Linked DNA regions of Homo sapiens. The protein of the gene in region 2 interacts with the protein of the main gene of each other region in a biochemical or structural test. Each region holds a gene or a part of one and is shown on either strand. Other genes may lie near its edges.

Region 1 (3,469 bases), on a different chromosome or scaffold from region 2:
GACATTTTCCCCCTCCCTTTTGTAAGAAAACCCTTAATCCTAAGGGTTGCAGAGGGACAAAGATCCATCTTCTATAACTTCTTCATGCTGAATAGGGTGATGATATTCCTGCTTAACTATTAGGGCCTCTTGTATCCATGGTAGAGAGGGGTTCAGTCAGAAAGGGCCAGTATGGTGAGGGCCATTCATAACTCTTAGTTCTGACAAAAGGTGATATCCAAAGTCCTCCAATCAGTGCTGCAGTCCATTTCCTTTGATTCGGGAGTCTCCTCCGTCTCATCCCTTCTGTGGTTCTCCAGAAAGATGTTACCAGAAAGGGGTCCCGATCCAGACCCCAAGGGAGAGGGTTCTTGGATCTTGCACAAGGTAGAATTCAGGGTGAGTCCATAGAGTAAAGTGAAAGCAAGTTTATTAAGACAGTAAAGGAATAAAAGAATGGCTACTTCATAGGCAGAGGAGCTGCAGCAAGCATCTTTTACACGTAGTCTCTGAAGAGCTCCTTACAATAGAGTTTCCAGGGCAAAACTGCCACCTTAAAGGGCAAGCGATGTCTAAGGTTTTGCCAAATTGCTTCCAGAGTGGTTGCTCTAGAATAACCAGTGGCCAGCAGTGCAGGAGAGCACCTGCTTCCCTGTTCCCTTGGGTGCATTCATTTTTCATTTGGGACAGATATACTAAAAAAGTTGGGGATAAGGATTTTGGCAGCATAATTGTGGAGACAGTGTTGCCAATTCCTGCTCCAGGACCATATGGTTCAGCTGAATATGGCAGAACCAGATTCTCTGCCTGGCTGAATGTCCCTGTCCCCTGCCCTGAGTCTCTTCCAAAATACGCTGAGTGTCTCTTCTCCTTTCCGCCCATCCAGGTGCCTCTAGATAACCATATCCCTGAGAGGGCAGGGTCTGGGAGCCAAGTCCCCACCGAACCCAAGAAACTAGAGGAGAATGAGGTTATCCCCAAGAGAATCTCACCCGTTGAAGAGAGTGAGGATGTGTCCAACAAGGTGTCAATGTCCAGCACTGTGCAGGGCAGCAACATCTTTGAGAGAACGGAGGTCCTGGCAGGTAAGTCCCCATGCTGCTTATAAGATGCCTTGAAGGTGGAATGGGGCTCAGCGGGGGAGAGCACCTGCAGGCAGGGATGCCTCCAGCCATGAGGCTCCTTGGTGCCCCTTCCTTTTGCCTATTCAGGTTGCCCTAGAACATTGAAAGACTACACCTTCCTTATGGGGTGGCTCTGACTGTGCAGCCTGGTGGAGGGAGAGGAAAAAGCACCTATCAAAGTCTTCTGGAAAATAGGCATTGAGTCATTCTTCTGCCTTAAGTCTTTCTCATTTATTTTGCAAAGGACTTTCACTGTATAAGTTTGGCATCTGGGAGTTAATCATTAAAAGTTAATTTCCCTTGTAAGTCTGGAGGCTCCTTCGAATTGGGTTAGCTTCCCCTCCCCCTACTCTATCACTTGGCAGCCTTGTGACCTTGGCTGAGAAGCTTTCGAACTTGATGAGCCTCAGTTTCCTTATCTGTAAAATGGGTACAGTGATACCTTCTGGGGTTGATATAATGAGTCCATGAAAAATAAAATATGAAATAACTTTGCACACTATAAAGGGCTATTCCGATTTGGCCTCAGTTGAGAGTTCTTTACTGGAATGTGCGGTGAGGAATGCTTTGTCCCAGGTGTTGACAAAAGGGATGGAGGGAACTCCCCAAGGTCATGGCCGAGGGCCAGCCTGGATGAACCGGCCTGGCAAGTGGGCACCCTGGGCCCATGCTGGGTAACTCCTGTCTCCTGGGAATCAACAGAGCCAGCAGCTCCAAGGAGGCTTGAGCTATAGGGACAGAGCCTGGCTTCATCCAGGACAGATGGAAGGTCTCACCTGCCTCTTGTAAAGAGGGTTCCTGGGAGCACAGCCCCTGATGACTGGGCCCACCTCAGCCCTGACCCTGGCTTCCTGGTATCTGAGCCAAAGTTCTTTTTACTTTTCTTTCAGAAGTAAAAAGATTTGCATAAGACTTTGGATTTGCATAAGGTTTTGCTCTAATTAACTAAAGGTGCTATTGCTTCTAAAGAAAAATTTGAAAACCACTGATTAATCTAAGCACCTGCTTCTTATACATGGGGAGACTGAGGCCCAGGCTTTAGGCCACATAGTAAGAAAAGAACTGAAGCCAGGTTATCTCTTTAATCTTCCATTTGAGAATTATACAAGCCTAAGAGCCTCATGTGAAAAGTTATATTGTTAGCTGGTGTGGTGGAATCCCCCATTCCAGAAGCTTTAATCAGCACCCAGGAGCCTTATTAAATGCTTGCTGTATGCTGTATGATTCCTGTGCCCCTGATTGAGTCCGTACAACACAAAACTCAGTCTAAAGAACTTATCCGAAGTCACAAAGCTGGAAGTGGCAGACCTGGCATTTGGACTGAGGACCACAGTCAGCTTCTGAGCCTGTGCTTGAAACTTGACCCTGTGGGGCATCCCAGCGCAGACCCAGGGCCTCGTGGAGGAACTGGGGTCATCAGAGGGAAAGGTGATAGAGACAAGAATGGGGTTGATGCCTGATATTCCATGTGCTTGCTCTGGCACCTCCTGGGGGTACTTTTTTGTTGCTTTTTCATAGGATTTTACCCAAGAAAGAACCTTGCTTGACTCCTCTGTGCCACTCTGTCCCCATTGTGTACATAGATTTGTAGTGTGTGCAGGGATGGAAAATTAATCTTCTTAGCCCGAGTAAGACCGAATTAGGGAACTCAATCTGCCACAGAAGGGATTCTATGAAGCATCCCTGCCCCTAGCAAACAGGAATGAGTCATTCAGGCCACCTGGCAGAGTGGACAGGCCAGACCCACTCACTGTTAGAAGCCCATCTCTGCCCAACACTAGGCAGGTTCTCCTCTCGGAGCCTGAAAGTATCATTTATTAAGCACCTCCTGTTGTGCACACCTGATTCAGGGGGTTCGGGACACAGATATAAACCTTAAACCCTTACAGTTAATGAATCTTGAGAATATGCTATGCACTAGGCATTGTTCTAAGCACTTTGAGTGGATTAATTTATTTAATCCTTAGGACAAATGTATGAGAAAGGTATGGCTCTTCCCATTTTGCGGTAGGGAGATGAAGGAAACTTGCCCCAAATCACACAGCCAGGAAGTAGGAGAGGTAGGAGTGGAAACCAGGCCTTAGCTACTGAGTTCTGTATGTAATTGTAACATAAGAGTTTGGAATTAGTATGTTCTGCATGTGTGCACTTTGAATGTACATACCTGTCTATGAAGTGTAGGCTATATAGGTAAATATGCACACAGGGAGAGCTAGAGAGTGCCCTGTGCTAAGGACTGCAGGATAAATATGTCTACAGGGATTTCCATAGCCTACGGTTTTCTCCTGTTCCTGGTTCAGTTAGTGCTAGACTGTTGCAGGGGAGTCCGCGTGGTGTTTGGAAAGAGCCTAGGCTTTAGATTCAGG
Region 2 (3,651 bases):
TTTTGGAAATGTATGAAATATCTGTACAGTTTTTACTTGAATAATTTTTATAGACTTCTGACATAGGATGACCCTAGTCATAAAGTTTACGGCCATATACTTTTGGTTCCACACTTCGCTTCCATACCCCGCCATCTGTGGGACACACTGTATTCACTCTGTGTGTCGGTTTGCTAGGGCTGTCTTGACAAATTACTGCAAACTGATGGCTCAAACAACAGAAATGAATGCTTTCACAGTTCAGGAGGCCAGAAGTCCTAAATCAAGGTGCTGACAGGAGGCCATAGTCTCTCTCCGAGCTACTAGCGGTTGCTAGCAATCCTTGGCATTTCTTGGCTTGCAGCTGTGTAACTCCAATCCCTGCCTCCATTGTCACAAGCCTGTCTCCCCTCTGTGTGTGTCTTCACATGACATTCTCCTCTGAGTGTGTCTGTCTCTGTGTGGGTCTCCTTTTTTTTTTTATTTTTTTTTTGAGATGGAGTTTCCCTCTTGTTGCCCAGGCTGGGGTGCAATGGCGTGATCACAGCTCACGGCAAACTCTGCCTTCTTGCACGTGAATTTTGTGGAATACAATTCAACCCCTTAACACTCTGATTTTCTAGCTCTTTGAACAGATTCTCTAGTTGTCTTTTAGGGTGTTTTAAATACATCCCCTCCAAAAAGAGACAATGGTGTAAGTATACTGGCTTTGGGTTTGTCCCCTGCAGAGTCATAGCTCCCCTGTGTCAGGCACAGCACAGGGGTCTCTGAACCTTACATTCAAGCCATGGCTTGTCTAGTCCTGAGGCACTGCCTGCACATCTGGTTACCCAACTTCTGGAAGGATCCAAGAGACTTGGGGAAGGTCCAGGAAGACAGTGGCACAGAAGGCCTGTTTTCCATGGGCAGGCTGATGAGAGGTCTGTGTCACATGCAGAGGGAATCGTGGCAAAGGTGAGTGTGGGTCTGCTTCTGCAAGCCTCGCAATTTCAGCTGAGTCACAACAGCAAAAGTCCAAGAGAGAGACCAGAAGAAGGCGTAAAGCTTGGGGTGGCTAAGGCTGATATTACAAATAAGTTCCAGAGAGTGAAGTCCAGCCTGTGAGAGGCCCATAGCACTGCCCTTTAGAGGATCAACATGGAGATCGTTAGGTCTCCCTCCAAACCAGCCTGCATGATACTCACTGCTCTGTCAACATATAGCAAAGTGGAACATGGTTCTTTTGTTTTTTTTTTTTTTTGAGACAAAGTCTTGCTCTGTCGCCAGGCTGGAGTGCAGTGGTGCGATCTTGGCTCACTGCAACCTCCACCTCCCAGGTTCAAGCAATTCTCTGCCTCAGGCTCCTGAGTAGCTGGGATTATAGGCGCCTGCCACCACACCTGGCTAATTTTTGTATTTTTAGTAGAGACGGGGTTTCACCATCTTGGCCAGGCTGGTCTTGAACTCCTGACCTCATGAGCCACCCACCTCGGCCTCCCAAAGTGCTGGGATTACAGGTGTGAGCCACCACACCCAGCCGGAACATGGTCTTAACATTAGGAAGAAATCTTTTGATTGGAAAACTTTGAGGGACTTGAGGGATTTTTTTTTTTTTGGTCCTCTTTCTATCACTTCATATTTCCAAATCACTTTTGATGAGCATGTATTTTCCTGTAACTTCCAAAAAATTAGTAAGAGAAAGATCTGGGGTAGCTCTCCCAGCTGATGTGCTGTTTTCTAACCAGTGAGATCTCAGGATAGCACATTCTTTAGACTAACTCAGTTTACCAAATATTCCTGGCATTTGGGCAGTACAAGAGTGTTCCAGAACAAGTCTCTACCCTGACGGAATCTAGAATCTTGAAAGGTGAACAAAGCAACAGATGTGAGCAATTCAAAAGTAGAACAGGACAGTATCCCTCAAGTCCAAAGCATATAAAGTGAAGGCTGGGAGCCTGAGAAGTGCACTGTGGGTCAGGGTGAAAGTTAAGCTTCTGTCTGGCGTCGACACTTGAGTTCCAATGGAAAGGGTCCGACCTTAGTGGAGGAAAAATGTCTTACCCATCCCTCTTTTGCTCTAAGTCTTGCCCTTCCCCACTGGTGTGGGTATCAGGAGGGGATGGGCAGTAATATAACTTTTGTAGGCAGACCTAGGGGCTGCTGCAGCTGGCCTAGTTTATTACCCTAACTCTGCTGGGACTTGCAGTCAGCACTGTCCATGGTCGCTACCCTTTTATAGCCAGGCCCTGATGTCACCCAGCCACAGAGCCTGGGGGTTGGACCATCCCTGTTGCCCCCTGTGCTGGGTGGGCAGAAGGCCTCCTCCACTATGAAGCCACCTTGCACCAAGAAGACACTGGGCACAACTCCTTATGAGGGTTCCCACCCTCAGCCCCATCTCACCTATGAGCCATCTTTGAGGTTCTGTCCCTTTCTCATTTGTTGGTCTTCAGTCCCTGGACACCTTCTCTCCCCAGCCTGACTCATCCCAAAGTTCTCACAAGCAACCAGCATTGTCCCAGTCCAGGTATGGTCTCCCACCCACAGCTGCAGTCATTGACAGGCTGACTCATTCCAGAGATGCCTTTCTGTCTTCCCTAAAGCCCATTCTCACCAGTTAGATCTTGGATGTCCATCTTTTTGCATAGTCTTTAAATTGTCACCAGCAGCTTGAGGCCTCCACACGAGCCTGGTTATACTCAGCATCACTGCATCCACCTGGGATGTTTTCAAACACTTTTGCAGCTCATTGGCTCCCAGAACCCAATTGGAAGCCCTGTGTGATCCTAGGTATAACGTCCCCAACTGGACCATCAGAGCCTTGCACATGGGGCTAGCGTGGTGCCCTTTTCCTCTCCAACTCTCTTGGACTGAATACATGCATATTGCCCCAAGCTCAACTCAAGGGGGTGATTTCTCTGTCTCCATGGGGGATACCTGTATGTGGGGACTCCACGTGCACTCCTCTTGATGTCAGTGTCCTGGAGATGGCTCCCAATTCTGCCCCCCAGCAGGGATCTTCACTGCCCTCTCCTAAGCTGGGACCCATGCCAGCCAATGTGATTTCCTGGCAGACTCTGACCTACTGGCATATTGCCAACCCAGGGCCCAGCTTACATACTAGTAGTCCAGCAAACTCAGAGGGCTACATCTGTACAAACCCATGAACCCAGATCAATTTCAAGTAAACACAGTCCCTTTCTTCTATGGGGTAGGGGAAAAATTAGCATAGAACTGGAGTCTTACAGACATGGACAGAGATTCCCAGCCTACAACTTACTAGGTCTGTGACTTAAGGAAGACGTATGGGCCCTCTGAGCCCCAGTTTTTTCAGCTGTGAAGTGGGAGAAAGGCTTACCTACCTTATAAGGTTTTCATGAGAATTAAATGAGCTGCTGTATATAGAGTGTCTGGCATCCTGCTTGGTCCATGGTAGTCCCCACAAATATTAATTAGTTCTCTTCTTTCTGGGATGCCTCCAGCCTCAGACTATATGTTGTCATCATGGGGATATAGAATTTCATCTCTTGGGCTGGGCGTGGTGGCTCACGCCTGTAATCCCAGCACTTTGGGAGGCCAAAGCAGGTGGATTGCTTGGGGTCAGGAGTTTGAAACCAGCCTGGCCAACATGGTGAAACCCTGTCTCTACTAAACTACAAAAAAAATTAGCTGAGTATGGTGGTGGGCGCCTGT

What was found. Proteins that work in one complex are often made in the same cells at the same time.
Region 1: the proteins of LDB3 (region 2) and SDC4 interact in a test that uses a peptide from one of them, tested with the Homo sapiens proteins (one large-scale study listed by IntAct).

What each region holds. Positions count from the first base shown.
Region 1 is NC_000020.11:45,327,961-45,331,429, reverse strand, and holds part of SDC4 (syndecan-4 precursor), read left to right. Parts: intron 1-865; coding exon 866-1,064; intron 1,065-3,469. UniProt on the Homo sapiens protein: Cell surface proteoglycan which regulates exosome biogenesis in concert with SDCBP and PDCD6IP.
Region 2 is NC_000010.11:86,727,383-86,731,033, forward strand, and holds part of LDB3 (LIM domain-binding protein 3), read left to right. Parts: intron 1-3,651. UniProt on the Homo sapiens protein: May function as an adapter in striated muscle to couple protein kinase C-mediated signaling via its LIM domains to the cytoskeleton.